Linked DNA regions of Homo sapiens: region 1 is linked to region 2. Evidence: fine-mapped expression QTL. A gene starts in region 2. The other region holds a variant in brackets. All regions are shown on one strand. Distances are from middle to middle.

The links. PIP is the estimated chance that this variant, and not a neighbour inherited with it, causes the effect.
Region 1: its variant is fine-mapped to the expression of KBTBD11-AS1 in minor salivary gland (GTEx, PIP above 0.99).

What each region holds. Positions count from the first base shown.
Region 1 is chr8:2,272,576-2,281,991 of GRCh38, forward strand. No RefSeq gene overlaps it. Among named protein-coding and RNA genes, the nearest start is that of MIR7160, 200 kb to the left of the region's middle. RefSeq lists a silencer at 6,179-6,356. The variant A/G (reference allele first, on the strand shown) is at 3,989.
Region 2 is chr8:1,969,913-1,979,328 of GRCh38, forward strand. It overlaps KBTBD11-AS1 (KBTBD11 antisense RNA 1), which reads right to left and starts at 3,433. Exons shown (of 3, transcript NR_136275.1): 1 at 3,236-3,433; 2 at 2,628-2,751; 3 at 1,267-2,445. KBTBD11 (kelch repeat and BTB domain containing 11) reads left to right here and starts at 3,765. Exons shown (of 2, transcript NM_014867.3): 1 at 3,765-4,023. It overlaps KBTBD11-OT1 (KBTBD11 overlapping transcript 1), which reads left to right and starts at 1,485. Exons shown (of 3, transcript NR_126346.1): 1 at 1,485-1,606; 2 at 2,013-2,125; 3 at 5,987-6,532. RefSeq lists enhancers at 8,075-8,634, 8,635-9,193.

The sequences.
Region 1 (9,416 bases), 300 kb after region 2:
CTGATTCTCCTAATCTGTAAGGGCGGCTTTCGCACAGGCTCCCTCTCCATCCTTTCTCGTTAAAGGCGCTCCATAAAGCAGCTTGCACACATGTTTAAACAGTTCATTGTCAATAACTTTAACCTCCCGCAAAAGCCAAATACAATGGTAATGTGGCTGTGCCTGCCTATTACAAAAGAAACCCAAGACTTAATTTCTAATCTGCAGAGGAAAATCTTTCCAGCCGTCCTCATTTGGCGGGCTTGTGGGTCTCTGTACGCGTGAAAACAGCGAGAAAATGGCAGTGGAGACATTTGTCATCTGCAGAGTAAAAATATATTGCTTTTTGTCAGGAATGTACTGGTGATGTCTGCGGGGGTGGAGAGAGAATGCATCAGTTGTGGCAGCAGGCCTTTGGGGTGGTGCAGAGGGAGAATGCCATGACCTCAGACATCTGCTCTTCCATGCCACTGGGCACGTGGTTGTGGAATGCGTCCTCAACTGGCCTTTTGCTGTTTTCTCCCAAATTTCATACCATGAGTCTTCATCTCAGGCTCCTCTTCGTTGATTTGAAGCCCCTAGTCCGTCTCCAGTTTTATTTCATTACAAGACAACATCAGCCTCTGGATCTGCTGTGATGTCCTCCCTCTGCTCCCTACATCTGTCTATCCTGCTCCCTGGAGGGGACGTCCCTCACATTTCCCAAAGTCTTACTCCACACCACCAGCTCAGGCTGAACTAGCTTAGAGAGTTTATTCCATTTGCCCCAAATACTGCCCTTTGGAACCCGCCAACGATCCATGTGTGCTTCAGATAGCCTCGTCCAGGCAGGAGTAGCTTTCTGAAATTTAAATTTTTATCTATTTACAAACATTTTTATGTGTAACAAAAAGTAAAAATGTGCCTAACAAGTATAATTAACCCTGAAATGGAAAAAAAAAAAAAAGAATATAAAGTATATCAAGGGTATCCACAGAGGAGGTAGTACTTTGGGTGGAAAGAGCATGGTTTTGAGGTTTGGATACATTTTGTCTGAGAATTTTGTTATATTGTTGAAATATGACATTTAACATTTGGTGTGGGTAATACTGACTTTAGAGGGTGCGTTGAAGCTTGATTAATGTGATCAGTGTCACTGGACCCTAGCATGTCCTTGTGTGTGTATCTATGTACAGGAATACACCATGCTTAATATAATCAGTGTAACTAGATTCTAGCATGTCCTTGTGTTTGTATCTATGTACAGGAATACACCATGGTTAATATAATCAGTGTAACTAGATTCTAGTTTGTCCTTGTGTGTGTATATATATGTACAGGCATACACCATGGTTAATATAATCAGTGTAATTAGACTCTAGCATGTCCTTGTGTATGTATATATGTACACGCGTACACCCATGGTCAATGTAATCAGTGTAACTGGACTCTAGCATGTCATAGTGTGTGTATATATACATATATATATATATGTATATATACACACACACGCATACACCCGTGATTAATGTATTAATGTAATCAGTGTAGCTGGACTCTAGCATGTCTGTGCATGTGTGTGTGTGTGTGTGTGTGTCTATGTACTCACATATACCCATTGATATGGTTTAGCTCTGTGGCCCACTCAAATTTCATCTTGAATTGCAATCCCCACATGCCGAGGGAGGGAGGTGATTGGATCGTGGAGGTGGTTTCCGCCATGCTGTTCTTGTGATGATGAGTGAGTCTCATGAGATCTGGTGATTTCATGAGCGTCTAGCATTTCCCCTGCTTGCATTTCTCTCTCCTGCCACCCTGTGAGTAAGGTGCCTTGCTTCCCTTTCACCTTCTGCCATGATTGTAAGTTTCCTGAGGCCTCCCCAGCCATGTGGAACTATGAGTCAAATAAACCATCTTCCTTTATAAATTACCGAGTCTCGGGCATTTTTTATAGCAGTGTGGAAACGGACTAATACACCCATGATTAATGTAATCAGCATAAGTGGATTCTAGCATGTACTTATGTGTGCATGTATGTACATGCATGTACCCATGATTAATGTAGTTCAACTAGACTTTATCATGTATACGTCCTTGTGTGTATACCTGCACAGGTGTGTTTATGTATATGTGTATATGTGCATTTGTGTATATAAATCTGTGTATAAGTGATTTGAAGATTAAATGTAAGCAGACATGGAGAAAAAGCACAGCTATCCAGCAACATGCCCCTGGCGTGTGTAGTCAGGCAGTCAGTGCTATCTGCTGTGAGGTACTTGTGTAGCAGGCGGGATAATATGATACAGAATATGGATGGATGCTCGGCTGTGTGTTGCCAAGCTAATCTCCTCTGCCTTGACTTTTTCCTTTCCTCCTCCCTCCTTCCCCTTGGAGTCATCTTGTTGACTATGGACTACAGAGTTATGTGTAAGTGGCTTCAGTGGGGAGCAAACAGGACAGCTCTGTTTGCCTTCGCCTCCCGAGGAGAACCTTTTCTGCACATCTGGTTTCCCCTTCACTATGTGATGCAGGGAAATTCCGGAAAATGCAGATGGAGAAAGTGCATCCACGAAGCTTCCACAGCTATGTGTATGTGTGTGCCCTACACATGTGCTTGCGTTTGAACCATGGGGTCTCTCGGGCTTACGATCAACTTGCCAAAAACTTTAGATCTCATTGAAAGCATGTGCCCTTTCACCCGTGAGCTAAACCTTGGGGAATCACACAGACTTTAACTAACCTAAGTGATTGAATACCTCTCGTTCATTTGGTTAGTGGACATGCTCATAGGGTGCAGGCCACTACCCTGGAGACACTTTCCGAATGGGAAACAGAAAACAGATGTGAGTCACACACACACAAAAGTTACCTCTGGAAAAATAGGATGGATTCTGTTTCCTCTCCTTCTAAAAGACTGTATTTAAACTGGTTCTGGTTAGTAAAGACAACATAAATATCTTTTCCTAAAATCTGTACCAAATTACTTCACTGAGAAGTCTCTGAGGATGTGCAGCCAGGACCGCAGGTCATATATTTTAGCCGCGTTGGGTCACTCACCTGGAGAGCCTGTCCTCAGCCCCCGGCCTCGCCCCACAGAGGCTGATTCGCTGGGCGGGTGGATCCGCTCGTTCTGTTTCTGATTAACTCGCGGGTCATGAGGCTGCTGTTGCAGGGAGATCCAGAGCTGGAAAACACCGCTATAGACCAGCACAACTTCACATTTTGGTCTACATGGATCATTTTGAGAGTATGATTAAACATCTAATCTCCAATTAAAAAGAAATCCATGTGTATACCTCTTTCCAAAATATCCCATATATATTCAGAAATAAGGGCTTTTTAATACAAAATCACTTAATTCTTCCAAACGTCGTTATCTGTGCCACCTACAGTTGCAACCACGTTCAAGGTAGAGACTGACTAGCTTGATACAATGGATGTTTAGGATTATCTCTTGCAGGGAAAATGGAGAAAATAAGCTTTTTTAATATTGCTCTTTAAACCTAGATATGTTGGCCATTTTAGGGTTTACTTACATGATGTAAAAAGTACCTACCAGGGCAATAGTTTTAAAACCCTTATTTCCAAAGCTTATAAATGCTTCTGTGGGTTCTACCTTAATTGTTATAAACAGCCTTTTCTCCATCTCTCATTCACTCTGCTTCAGGCCTGCCCATGTCTCAGCTCTGTCCAGCTTGAATTAAACTGTTGTTTAGGTTGGGAAGTGTTAATGAGTCCCTAACACTTCTCAGCTGTCCAGTCTCAGCTCAAAATAGCTTCCTCACCAGACATCTCTTTAGGGGCTGACCGTCTGCAGGCCTCATCTGGCCCAAATATGTATTGTCAGCCCACAGAGGCGTGTGGTTTAGGTGCTGGCTGGTTTGAGAAGTAACCTGAACATGATGTTGGCTAGGCATACACTTGGTTTTGCCACAGTCTTCGCTATCCCCTACTGGCCAGCCTGGCCGATTCATCCCTTTATGTTAGTGCTGGGCCTTTCCTGAGTAGCTCCGGTTGACTTCTAAAAGTA[A/G]TGTTAATTCAATCTCCCTTTCTGTCTTTACCTACCTATCTGGTGACTATTTATACACACTACATCTAGTAAATATACTAAATAACTATGTATAGTGCACCAAATGTTTTGGATTAATATTAGCTCCTTTTCCCTTGGAACGTGATTCTTCCTTCTTAATACCCGGATTTATTTCTAGGGTGTTTACATCATTCGAATAATTTTGTTTAAATCATTTAATTTAAATAATTAATTGTAAAACATTTAAATTACGTATACTGGCTGGGAGCAGTGGTTCACGCCTGTAATCCTAGGACATTGGGAGACTGAGGCTGGCAGTTTGCTCGAACCCAGGGGTTCAAGGCCAGCCTGGGCATCATGGAAATGGCCTGTCTGGCCGGGCGTGTTGGCTCATGGGTGTAACCCCAGCACTGTGGGAGGCCGAGGCGGATGGATCACCTGAGATCAGGAGTTTTGACCAGCCTGACCAACATGGTTAAACCCCATCTCTACTAAAAGTACAAAAACCAGCTGCGTGTGGTGGCACACACCTGTAATCCCAGCTACTCGGGAAGCTGAGGCATGATAATCGTTTGAACCCAGGAGGCGAAGGTTGTGGTGAGCCAAGATTGCACCCCTGCACTCCAGCCTTGGTGACAAGCAACACTCTGTCAAAAAAAAAAAAAAAAAAAACACACTTCACCTTTACAAAAAATACAAAAATTAGCTGGGCGTGGTGGCACTCGCCCGTAGTCTCAGCTACTCAGGAGGCTGAGGAGGAAGGATAGCTTGAGCCCACGAGGTTGAGGCTTCAGTGAGGTGTGATGGTGCCACTACACTCCAGCCTGGGCAACAGAGCGAGACCCTGTCTCAAAAAACAAAAATAAGAAAATAAATGATATGTACTGAATACCACTCCATCCTAACAATGAAGCACATCTTACTCACCGCTGTATAACATAACGTGAGGGTGTCATCTCCACTCTAAGAAATAAGGGAAAAGAGGCAGTAAACTTTTGGAGAATTCTCAGGTGAAATCCCAGGTAAAATTTCATTATTGTCATTGTACTTGTAAAAAATACTTAAGGCCGGGCATGGTGGCTCACGCCTATAATCTCAGCACTTTGGGAGGCCCAGGCAGGTGGATTACTTGAGGCCAGGAGTTCAGGATCCACCTGGGCAACATAGTAAGACCCTGTCTCTACTAAAAAAAAATACAAAAATTAACCAGTCATGGTGGCCGGTGCCTGTAGTCCCAGCTACTTGGGAGACTGAGGCAGGAGAATTGCTTGAACCCAGGAGGTGGAGGTTGCAGTGAGCCGAGATCAGGCATCTGCACTCCAGCCTGGGCAACAGAGCAAGACTCCACCTCAAAAAAGACAAAAAAAAAAAAAAAAACTATAACAAATCATGAGCTCTAAACAATTTTAGAGTAAGTAACATAAATCTGTATCCATATGAAAAGCACTTGTTCAGTTTGGCCTAGGGTCTATAGTGGGGGTCTTGTCCTCGAAGAGGGCATGCGCTCTGGGGACAGCTGGATGACCTGAGCAGTAAAGGAGACGAGGACAGAGGGCGCTGTGAGTGCCGGGCCCAGGGACTGACTCCCCATTCTTGAGTCCAATGTGCTTTTGTTCTGCCCAGCTCTTGGAAGACTCGGCCCCCCAGAGTCTTGGCAGTGTGGATGTGACAGGGTCCCCAGCGGGACATGGGCACAGGAAGAGCTGGGGGAGGGTCCCCAAGCATGGGCTTTCCCATCAGGGAGCCAACAGAGCAAAATGTTTGGAGCGTGACAAAATGTTAACATTTAAAATACATTAATAAGATGGCGACAACTTGCTATGGTCTGAGGGTTTGTGTCACCCCCAGATTCCATGTTGAATCTTAATCACCAAAGTGATGGTACTAGGAGAGGGACTTGGGGGTGATTAGGTCGTGGGATTAGTGCCCTTATAGAAGGGACCCCAGAGGGCTGCTGTGATACAATAAGAAATCTATACTTGATCTCTGCCCCCCAGTTCCTGGCACAGAGCTCTACAACCCTCGGAATTTTCTGAGTGAGAGGAACGTCTTTTGTTCTCATGAAGCAACTCTTGGTGGCTCCTAGATGGGCCTGGTCACCAGAAAGACCAAGCCGTGATTAGAAGTTTGGAGTTTTCAAGCCTGGGCAATATGGAGAGACCCCATCTCTACAAACAAACAAACAAACAAAAATTAGCTGGATGTGGTGGCTCATGCCTTTAATACCAGCACTTTGGGAGGTTGAGGCAAGAGGATCGCTTGAGTCTAGGAGTTCAAGACCAGCCGGGGCAACATAGTGAGACCCCAGTTCTACAAAAACTTTAAAAAAAAAAAGCCACCTATTGCACACCTATAGTTCCAGAAGCTAAAGTGGGAGGGTCACTCGAGCCCAAGAGGTTGGCACTGCAGTGAGTTATGATCGTGTCACTACACTACATCCTGGGTGACACAGAAAGTCCCTGTCTCAAAAAATAAAGAAACAGAGAAAACCAAATAAAAACACTTAAGAAGCTGCTGAGCACAGCTGCATGGCAGGAGGGTGGAGCACCCCAACTCCATGGGGCCAGATGCTCCTGTGCTTGGGACCTTCAAGACCCCGCTCTCTCCATCGCTTCATCTGCCTGTTCTTCTGTGTCCTTTATTATAACCTTATTAACAAACCATCAAATGTAAGTATAGTGTTTTGCTGAGTTCTGTGAGCTGCTCTAGCAAATGAATTGACCTCAAGAAGGGGGTGCTGGGAGCCCGATTTGCGGCCATTCAGTCAGAAGCGTGGTGGCTGGTATCTGACGTGGGGACCGTCTTATGGGACAGGGTCCTTTAACCCGTGGGATCTGATCCTCTCTCTAGGTAGACAGGGTCAGAGTGAAGTTGAATTACAGGACACCCAGCTGGTGTCCTCTGGAGAATTGTTTGGTATGTTGGATTTAGTGAGACAAGATATAGGAAAGTGTTTTTTATTTTTTGGAGACAGGGTCTCATTCTGTCACTCAGGCTGGAATGTAGTGGCACAATCATTGCTCACTGCAGCCTCGAACTCCTAGGCTCAAGGAATCCTCTCACCTCAGCCTCCCAACAAACAGGGACCACAGGTGCACACCTCCAAGTCCTGCTAATTTTCATATGTTTTGTAGAGATGGGGTCTTACTATGTTGCCTAAGTGGATCCTCAACTCCTGGCCTTAAGTGATCCACCCGCCTGGGCCTCCCAAAGTGCTGAGATTACAGGTGTGAGTCACTGCGCCTGGCCCAGGAAAGTGTTTGACACAACGTCTGATACCTACTCAATGAGCAATTGGTTCAAACATAGTTTTGACTAAAATAACTCCTGTGGAAATAAATATTGCTTTCTCAAGGGTATTCCAACTATTCTGTCTTCAGTCAATTCTTCTTCCCCATTTCCCTCTCCTCCTCCACTTCCTTCTCCTCCATTTCTTTATTTAACAGTGGCTCCAATTGTGAAACTTCCATTTGTGCCCCCTTGAGAAATGAGGCAGAGAAAATCCCAAGGAGGTGCTCTTCTCCCACCCGGACACCCCTGATCCCAAGGAGATGCTCCACTCCCACCCAGCTTCTGGATTAAGGATTTAGGGCAGCATACTTTCATCAATGACTTCTGAAGGTCACGTTTGTTCAGGACGTTCTGAAGACATTTCTGATAGTGTACCATCTTTATAGACGTTGCTCCCTACTACGACAAATCTGTTGAGAAATTAAATGAAGGAGCCCCTTCTGTGCTCTTTAATTTCCCAATGCAATAGTAAATGTGAGAGTGCCTTACAACCATGAAGCAATTCAGCCTGACTTTTGGTGATTACAAGGAAAAGGTTGGAAAGAGCTCTTAGTGTTTAATATTTAAAAACAAATATGTGTTGTATATTGACGAATTATAGTTGTATGTACTTATGGGTAAAAAGTGGTGTTATGCGCTTTATAGACAATTTAGAATGTATTCAGCATGCTGTGCTATGGATCTAAAAAATATCAGACTTTTCCTCTGATCTCACTGAAGCTTTGTGTCTTTGACTGTCATGTCTGTGTTTTCCCAGGCGTCAGCCTCTGCAGCCACCATTCCCCTCTCTGCTGCTCCGAGTTCAATTGTTTTAATTCCACAAGTAAGTGAGGATATGCTGTGCTTGTCTTTCTGCGTTTGGCTTATTTCACTCAGCATAATGTTCTACAATTCCATCCATGTTGTCACAAATAACAGAATTTCTTTTCTTTTTAGGGGCTGGATAATACTCCATTGTGTGTATAAACTACAGTTTCCTTATCCATTTGTCCCTTAATGGACACTTAGACTGATTTCATAACTTGGCTATTGTGAATCATGCTGCAATGAACTTAGGAGTGCAGATATCTCTTGGACCCATTGATTTCAAATCTTTAACACCCAGAAGTGGGGTTGATGGATCTCTTACTTAATGTTTTTGTTCCATTTAACATGGATGTCCCTCTAACTCTTCTAAAGAATGTCACAGATGATCTCAGTTGGGCTAGAGTTTTTCTTGACTTCATACTTTGCATTCTTCTGGCCTTAATGCATTTTGGAAAGGAGCCAGTTGTTTAGAAATGTGCTCCTGCTTTTCTAACCTATGTTCAAAAAAGAGTAAGCTTCCCCTGCACCCATGGCTGTGAATCTGTGGGACTGTCGACAGTCAGGCACTGAGGATGAAGAACTGGAAGATTCTGCACATCCCAGGCCATTCTTGATGTTAGCTTTTCCCATATGTGATGCTGTAGCGTGGGAAGGAACGGGAAATTTCTCCTACTTGCTTCCAGTTACAGGAGAATTCCTTTTCAGCAGCTCAACAAAGGCCTGCTACTGATGGCCTCCTGGATGTGACGTCACGCTCTGGGGCTGCAAGTCCAGTTTAATTCATCAGCTTTTTCCAGCTGTATAATAGGACATAAAACAGACGTAGGAGGAATGTGGAAGAAAGAGGTACAGTCCCTGCTCTTTTCTGATTTATACCCATTGTACCTTGCCCCAATGTGGTCTTCGGTTGGTAATTCAACATCTCTTGTATATATTATCTTTGTATATACCTTAATATATTAATAATTTAAAGCCCCAGTATAATTCCCTGCATAAAGTAAGACTGAACTAAGTCCCCTTTTTATAATGGTGAACCTGATTATGCACTGTTAACAGACAGTGCAGTAATTTTCAGAGATCATAGCACAACCACACTCTTCTGAGCTGGTTTCTCTGTCTACAGCAGCCATCTGTATTTAAACAAACCTCAAAGGTGGGGTGTGTGTGTAGAATTCTAGGTATTTAGAAAAGCCAGAAATTCAGTTTATAAACAACTGTTCAAAGCCAAAGATTATGACATCAATTAGCATTTCTAAAATCGCTAGGTGAGTGGTATTTTGCTTCATCATTTCTGTGACACATTCCAAGCAAGCATCATTGTATATGGTAT
Region 2 (9,416 bases):
CATGTTGCCCAGGCTGGTCTCCAACTCCTAGGCTCAGGCAATCTGCCCGCCTCAGCCTCCCAAAGTGCTGGGACCACAGATGTGAGTCACTGCCCCCGACCCTCAAAATATTTTAAATTGCAGCTAACTTGCTCTAACATTATTAATATATGCCTTGAAACTATTTTAAAGTAATGGTTGCCATCTTATTTCCTTTATTTTTCTGAAAAATGGTTACTAGGATTCCCCCTAATAAACGTACTGGCCATGTGGAGACAGCAGCGTTAATTCACTGGCAGAGCGTGTTGCCTGTGGGTAACCTGCAATCTGCTTGAGGGAACCACGTGCCCAGGCCCCTGCAGCCCCTGGGAGAGCCTGTCAGGGATGATGAGCAATGGGCATTTGGGCTCAACAGGCCTCACTCCTTCATTTAGTCAACAATTACCGAGCTTGGCTTCATGCCCTCACATTGCTGGGCCCAGGGGTACAAAACTAAAAAGCATGGCCTCCGTTTCCCTATTCGAATCAGGACAATTAGGGTATCATCTTAAACCTGGGACTGTCTGTAATTTAAAATTTGGGGTCCAGGCACGGTGGCTCACGCCTGTAATCCCAGCGCTTTGGGAGGCCGAGGTGGGTGGATCACCTCAGGTCAGGAGTTTGAGACCAGACTGACCAACGTGGTGAAACCCCATCTCTATTAAAAATAAAAAAAATTAGCCGGGCGTGGTGGCACACACCTGTAATCCCAACTACTCGGGAGTCTGAGGCAGGAGAATCACGTGAACCCGGAAGGTGGAGGTTGTAGTACGCTGAGATCACACCATTCCACTTCACACTGGGCAACAAGAGCGAAACTGTCTCAAAAAAATAAAATTTGGGGAATGACATGCTTAGCACATGGCCAATGCATGTTTGCTATCGATAGTCAATAGTGGACAATATCAAAGAGGACTTAGGAACACACTGTTTCCTTAATATGAGGGTCTCAGGCGCTGGCTGGTAACATAGGTGGAGAGACTGACATAAGGAAAGAGCTTCACAGTATTTAAGCAGCAGCTTGCGACAAAAACGCAATTGCACACAGTTCATCAGAGCTGAGGAAGCACTGAAGTAGGTAAGGTTCACCTAAGGGAGTGCCAGGGCCGGGTAAGGTTCACCTAAGGGAGTGCCAGGGCCGGGTAAGGTTCACCTAAGGGAGTGCCAAGGCCAAGACTACTTTTGTACAATATGCACAGAATTTTTTAATGAACCAGTGAGTGTTGTTTCAAAGCCAACACATATATTCTAATTATTTCTTCATGCCAAGAAGCTGGAAGTACTTTATAGCAATTGGCTCCATTCCTGACAGTTATTGGGATTTAACAGCTTTATTGGCTGGGGGAGGAACACATGAACTCCTAAGGGCTAATACAAGCATTTGGGAAATTATCTGTTGTCTGGCGTCAGCACTGGAACAGGGCAGCAGAGCTGGAGAGTAAGAAGCAGAGCTGGAGAGGAAGAAGTGTTTGCTAAGTCACCGCGCAGGAGGAGACAGAATCAGAGGTGACGAATGTAAGTCCACCCATTGGCTTAAGATCCAGTATCCTGAGTGAGTTGCACAGATCCTCTCCTTCAGTCCTCTCAGGTAGGTGCAGTGGTGTCTCCCTGGAGCACAGAGAGGCCAAGTATCTGGCTCCAAATCACAAGACTTGCAGAGGGTAAGGCTGGTGTCTAAGGTCCCATCAGTTGAACTCCAAAGCAGGCTGTCTAGAAATTGGGTTCAGAGACCTCCCAGCCTGGAACCCAGTTTGATGGAGTCCCGCATTCAGGGGCCAGTAAACCACTGTACCCTGGACAACTCCATAAGCTTCGGTTATATTTTTAGGGCGGTTTTGCATGTTGAAATATTTGCATGCTTCGAGTCTACCATGCATGATCAGGCTGTCCCTGACCAGGGGAAAATTTACATAGTAAAATAGTATTACCCTTGAAATAGATTTAAGATAGGTCCTCCTTTTTCTTGACAGTATTACAACCCAGTTCAATTTCAGGAACTCTAGAGGTCCCTGCAGTTATGAAGAACTAATTAAAGGCATGAAATGTTCCTCTGCAAGTTTCATTGACCATATTGGGCCTACAGTCCATTTCCAAATAAATATCTAAGGTAAGAAAAATATGGGACTCCCCACAGACTACTTATCTACCAGATGGTGTGGGGTTTGGATGGATGTTTTCAGTTACTTCAGCAATTTTTTCATTAATTCAGTATTTATTGAGAACCTAATGTATGCCAAGCTTGTAAAATGCAGTGGGGGGTATGACCTATTCCCAGGTCTCTGGACTCTGGCAGAATGGTAGAGAAGATGCTGTCGGGCTTGCATGTTCAGAACACCGTGTCTTAGGTGACCTCCCGGGCCTTTGGAGGCCCAACCCCAGGGTGGCGGGATAGCCAGGTGAGGCTTTGTTTGGCCTGTTCACGTTTCTCTGGAAAAGAATGGGGGTAGTTAGGCCAGGCGCGGTGGCTCATGCCTGTAATCCCAGCACTTTGGGAGGCCAAGACAGGTGGATCACTTGAGGTCAGGAGATCGAGACCAGCCTGGCCAATGTACAGTGAAACCCTGTCTCTACTAAAAATACAAAATTTAGCTGGGTGTGGTGGTGCATGCCTGTAGTCACAGCTACTTGGGAGGCTGAGGCAGGAGAATTGCTTGAACCCAGGACGCAGAGATCGCAGTGAGCCGAGATTGCACCACTGCATTCCAGCCTGGGCGACAGAGTGAGACTCCATCTCTAAAAAAAAACAAAAGAGAAAAAGAAGTATTATTCTGCAGCCGAAAGGAAGTAGAGATGCACTAAGAAGATCACAGTAGAGTTTGGAACATTTTTGGAGTAAACTGAACAAAATAAAAACGGAGCAGCATGGGAATTATTTTAGCTTCCACCAAAAGGGTCTGTTTCTGCTATAGTTAACGGAAGTTTTCAATTTTCAAAAAATCCCAGTAGCTCGCTGAGTTTCAGCCTCCTGTAATTCAAGTACTGACAGCAGGTACTACTCTTCTTGGCAACAGAGTGAAAAAGGTTTTAAAGATGTTCCCGGGGCGTTAGCTTTGGTGCTGGAGTTGTAACGGCTCATTATGTGTATACAGCATGGAACTGGCAAAGACTGTCACAAGCAAAAAGAACACAAAAAGAGAAAGTAAAGGCTCTGGCTCTCGGTACTTATGGAAATCTCATCGTCATTAATTTGCACAAAGCCATTAAAAATAGCATTTACCAGCAGGGGTCCAGCGTTAATTAGAACCCAGCCTGGGAGCAGCTGGAACTCTCGGCGCTCCTGGCTCAGTCCTCGCCGCCCTGAACCCGTCTGCACCGCAGGGCCCGAGTGGGAGGCAGAGGCCACATTTCTGGATATGAGCAAAAGCTCCGACATTTCGTCCACTCTCGTGTTGTGAACTTTAAAAAATTCTGGAATCTGTTGAGAATTTGGCAATAAGTTTTTAACCACTAAATATGTCAACAACGCATCGCCTCTACTTTTACCAAAAAATAGGCGCACGAAACTCCGCTGTTTGCGCCCGCGGACACCTGTCCCCGCCTCCTCGCAGGAAGCGGCCCCCGCGCGTGGGCGCGGGCTCGGGCTCGGGCTCGAGTGGCGACGTGGGCCGCGGTCCTGGAGGGGGAGAAGCGCCCGGCGGGCAGGCGCGGGGCAGGGAAGCCCCGGGGAACCCACAGCCCCTCCGCAGACCCAGCCAGGGGGCGCGCGCCCGAAAACGCCCCGTGTGCACGCGCCCGCCCCCCTCCCCGCGCCCCGCGCGCGCCCCTCGCAGCCTGGAGCCGGAGCGCTGGCTCCGCGCGGCCTGGAGAGGCGGAGAGGCCTGTCCACCGCCCCCTCTGCCGCCCACGCCCCGCTGCGGGTCGGAGGAGCAGCTCCCGCTCGCAGGTGCTCGGAGAGGCCGGGCCGCGGCTCCCACAGGTGCCGGGAAGCGGCCGCGCGCATGCGCCGGAGCCCACCCGCCTGGCTGCGCGTCCCGGGCCCGGCGGCTGAAGAGGAGCCGCGGCGAGGTAGGGCGGACCCCGGGGAGGCAGCGGCGGGGCCTGGCGGGCGGAGCGGGAAGCAGCCCGAGGCGCGGGTCGGAGGGGGCGGCGGGTGGGAGGTGGTCGGCGAGAGCGGCAGTAGGCGGGAGGGGAGAAAAGGGGAGGCCGGCAGGGGAGAGGCGGGGAGGGGAGGCCGGCAGGGGAGGGAGGGGAGCGGAGCGGAGGGGAGGGGAGGGGGGACCGGGAGAGGAGGGGGCAGCGCTGCCCGCGGCGGGGTGGGCGGCGGTGGGTGGTCTCCGCTCCGCCTCCGGGAGGCCGCGTGGGGGGCGTGGGGGCCTCCTCGCGGGGTCTCCACAGGCCCTCCCCCGGGACGCGGCAACCCCGGCCGGAAGACAATGAGCCGCCCGCGCCGCGCCCGCAGTCACCGCCCCCGCCGAGGGTCCCGCCGCCCCAGCCGGCACGGAAGCAGGAGCAGAAGCCGAAGCCAAGCGCGCGGGGCCAGGGCGGGGGCTCCTCCCGGGGTTGCTCCGCTTGGCTCTCGGCGGTCGCGGGGATCGGCTGTCCGGAGCGAACGGGGGTCTCTCCTGGACTCGGGGCCCTGGGGAGGGGAGCGCGGCCCTTGGTCCTCCGCCGCTGCGCCCGGGGTGCGGGGGTGTCCTGGCTGCTGACCCCCGCGAGCCCCGAGCACCGCGACCCACCCGCCCCACCGCGCCGCGGCTCCCGAGTCCTGCCGGGCGCCCCTTGCAGCCCCCGCCCCATGTGCTGGGGAGACCCCCGGGCGGTCTGGGCGGGATTCCGCAGGGGTCCCTCCTCTCAGGCGGGGCTCATTCTGGAGCATGAAAAGAGGGTGAACCAAAGTCCCTCCACCTCTTTAGAGTCCTACAAAACCACGTTTCCCCCTCCACCCACTCCAGTGTCTATTCTAAGGAAAAGAAAAGGAACAAATCAGTGCAGCGAGCTTTATTCTACTCAGCCCACGAAAGGCGCCGCCGTCAGATTTTAAAGTTCCAGCCATCCCCTCAGGCCCTGAGTGAGAAGTTCGCCCGATTCCCCGCGGTTCCCGCCTCCATTTCCCACTAAGGAGCAGTTACTCAGGCTCCAATTAGGACCCCTTAATGGATGTCAATGGAACCCTTCAGCCTTTTATCCTGAGCTAATAGTGTGCTATTATTAGAATAATCCTCCCCATTCCTGACATCACGGAAGGGAGCGTTCCATTGCCTTCAGATTTGCTCCAGCAACAACCTCGTGTGTGCAGATTTATGGTAACTGGCATTGCAATGCTCCCATCAGGGCATAACTAAGTAAAAATTGTAATGAGGTAAAGCCTTTGAACTTTCCATGTCAGTTGCACAGGCATTGCTGGCCATAGCATTGGACAGCACATAATAAAATCAGTTAAAAGATGTTGCTTACATTATAGTGATGTGTAGCACAGCCACGTTCGGATCAATTACAGACCGCCAAGTTGACGGTGGTCCTGTAAGATTATAAAACTGTTTTCCCTGTGTCTTTTTCATGCTTAGAAATGTGTAGATACACAAACACCATTGTGTTACAATTGCCTGCGGTATTGTGCACGCTGCACAGGTGTGCAGTCTGGAGCAGGAGTCTGTGCAGTGGAGCACAGGTGTGTAGCAGGCTGCACCGCCTAGGTGTGTAGGTGCCCTGTGTGATGTTTGCACAGTGATGAAGTTATCTAACTATCATTTCTCAGAACCTGTCTGCATCTGAACCATTCGTGACTGTATTTAAGCCAGCATTGGGCTTGGGAGGAGGGGAGAAAGCTTAAATGTTGTGGCTCTGAGACTAAAGAAATTCCCAGGGAGCAGGACTCTGTGTTGACTGATGTCTGGGCCTAACTTGAACCTCAGAGCACCTTGCTCTGGGTGGATGGAAGAATCCGGAAAGGTGGTTTGGAGCTTATCGCATCATTTGTAAACTCCAATACAAACCCGCTTCAATGGGGTTTCCATATGTTCCGGTACAGGTAGCAACCTTGGCAGTGGGAGCCCAGCAGGTCCCGTCTTTGTCCCTGTGCTGATACAGAGAGACTCTCCGTGCTGTGGACGCCTCCATCTGGGCACATGTTTCAGTTGTTTTCTAAATACCAAGAGCACAGATTGCTCAGTAATAATAGCTCTCCTGCAAATCTGGAATCACTTAGGCAGCTGCAGTGCCTCTAAGCCTCCTTGCATCCAAGGCTGTGATCAAGGAGGACTGGTGTCTGAGTGGGCTTGAGAAGGGCCCGGAGAACAGCGGGTTTCCTGATCACAAATCAGCCTGTCATTCAGCATGTGTTCCCTTGGTGACTCAGGGCGATATCTGCCCTTCTCCGGAGGTCAAGGGCTCATCGTGTCAATTGTGGTCTTGAGTTTGTTTTTTTTTTCCTCTTGAAATCATTGTAATTAAGCTAAAAGTATAGTGTTGGTATCCAGCACATGTTTGCAAAGTATTTAACAATGAGCAAAAACTTTAAGAATAAATTAAAGCATCTAGTTTACTTTTTGCCAACAGCCAGGTTCCTGCTAGAAATGATTTTGAAATAAATGTTGTCTTGGAAATAGAAACCGTTGCATGTCTTATGTGCATTTTGTTTGAAGGATTAGCATGAATTTCCTTCTCTTCTGAATATTTGTGGAGTTCCCCTGCTCCCCCACCCCCCACCCTGCTGTGGGTCAGGCTCAGTCCTAGGTGCTGGGAATACAGTTGTAAGTAAAGTCAGCCTAGTTCTCTGCTATCTGCAGCTGAGACGTTAATACAGTGAAAGGCATTCAGCATATAATTACGTTAATTCTTAGGTAATAACACACGGAGATGAGTGCGTTGAAGGAGAGGAATACATTCCCTTGAATGCACGTAACAGAGGAATGTTAGGCCGAGAACTAAGGGATGAGAGGGGTGGCTCAGGAGCCCAGGAGGGGACAGTTTGCGGGAACATTGTGTGCAAAGGCCCTGTGGTGAGGACTAGAGCACGGAGAGGTCAGTGAGGGGCGCTGGAGCAGGGTGTAGTAAAAGTGTAATGTCAGCCGATTTTATGGCTGAGTTAAATTGATGGAGCTTCACACTTTAGAGCAAGGTCCTCCAACCCATGGGCCACGAGCCACATGTGGCCCAGGACAGCTTTGAATGAGGCCCAACACAGATTTGTAAACTTTCTTAAAACATTATGAGTTTTTTTTTTTTTTAAGCTCATCATCTATCATTAGTGTTAGTCTATTTTATGTGTGACCCAAGACAATTCTTCCAGTGTGGCCCACGGAAGCCAAAAGATTGGAGACCCCTGCTTTAGAGCTTGACTGAGTTTCATATGGATTAATTTTGTAGCATGGAGACTTCCCGAGTCCTAAAGTGAAATCATTAAATAGGAAGATGCACATAGAATGTTTTGTAAATGAAAAACCACGGTGCCGATGTTAGCTGGTATTGTTACTGTTTTATTAGAAAGGTGTAGAGTCGTGGGGACATACATATGGGTGTGGTTCTATGAAGTGTACCATCTTTGTCCTGGCCACCTCCATCTCATGCTTGGACTCCTGCAGTAGTCTCTGGAGAGGCTCTGCACATCCTCTCTTTGAACAGGTCCTCCTGCAGTAGTCAGAACAATGATTTTTATTATTATTATTATATTTTGAGATGGAGTCTGGCTCTGTCATCCAGGCTGGAATCCAGTGGCACCATGTCAGCTCACGGCAACCTCCGCCTCCAGGGTTCAAGCAATTCTCATGTCTCAGTCTCTCGAGTAGCTGGGATTACAGGCGCCCTCCAGCACACCCAACTTATTTATTTATTTTTTTTTGTAGTTTTAGTAGAGATGGGGTCTCAGCATGTTAGCCAGGCTGGTCTCGAACTCCTGGCCTCAAGTGATCTTCCTGCCTTGGCCTCCCAAAGTGCTGGGATTACAGGCATGAACCACCACTCCCAGCTCAGAGCAATTATTTTTTAAAATTCTTACAATAGTGGGCCTTTCATAGCTTCCCATTCCTGCAAGATGCAGTTCACAGTTCTGAATATTCGTATCACGACCCTTGTTCCAATATCATGGTGGTTCAATAAGCCATGCACAGCTTAGTGGCTTAAAACAATAGCATTTATTTATATTTTAAGTTGCAGGGTACATGTGCGGGAGGTGCAGTTTTGTTACATAGGTAAACGTGTGCCATGGTGGTTTGTTGCACCTGTCAACCCATCACCTAGGTATTAAGCCCAGCAGGCATTAGCTCTTTATCCTGATGCTCTCCCTCCGCCGCCCTCTACAGGCCCCAGTGTGTGTTGTTCCCCTCCCTGAGTCCATGTGTTCTCATCATTCAGCTCCCACTTATAAGTGAGAACGTGGTGTTTGGTTTTCTGTTCCTGTATTCGTAGCAATAGCATTCATTTTGCTTAAAAGTCTGCAGTCTCGCTGGGCACAGCTCACCTTGGTGCCACTCAGCACCAGATGCGGAGCTTGAAGGCCAAGGGCTGGAACCATGGAGGCCACTGACTTGCTGCCTGAGGCTTGCGCCAGGAGGATTCACACACTGGGGGCTGGCGCAGCAGGGGCCCCTCGGGGACCTTCCCCTGTCACTGTGTGACCGTCCATGTACTCGCTGCAGCGTGGCAGCCTTGATGCAGTGGACTCCCTGTGTGTTGAGTCAGGGTCACCACGGACTGTGACCTGAGAAAACAGCCAGGTGGAACCGGGTCACCTTTCTCACGAGGCGGGGAGGTCATGTTGTGTTGCTTCCCCCTCAGTCCCTGGCCTGCCACGTAGAAGGGGAGGGAACGGGGTCTCAACTGTGAGCGCAGGGGAATCTCACTGGGCGGGATGGGCGTGCCGAGCAGGGTTCATCCATGCGGCATGTTTGGAAAATAGAATCTGCTCTTTCCACTAAGGTCATGTCCCTTCCACATAAAAAAGGCTACGGCGATCCCCAAGTCTCATCCTGTTGTGGCATCAAGACTTGGGCTCCAGGAAGTCATCATGGAAGTCAGGTGTGAAAGTGCCTCCCTGGGTTCCAGTCCTTCCTCTAATGCAAAGGCTGGTGTTCCAAAGCAATGAGAGACCCACCCCCAGCCCACAGTGCACAGCCCTGGGCAGGCACAGGAGAACTGCTGTAGGCCCTCGTGCTGGTCAGGGTTCTCCAGGGAAACACAACCAACTGGGTACATGTGTGTGCATGTGTGTGCATGTGTCTGCACGTGTGAGAGGGATTAGAGAGCAAGATTGAAGGACCTGGCTCATCCGATGGTGGTGGGGCAAGTCTGAGATCTGCAGGGCAGGCCGGCAGGCTGGATAGCCAGGGAAGTGCTGGCATTGCAGTCCCTCCTCCTCGGGAACCTCCGCCTTTTTAAGGCTTTGACTGATTGGACGAGGCCCACCCATATTGTGAATAGAAACATGCTTTACTCAAAATCTTCCCATGTAAATGTTAATCATG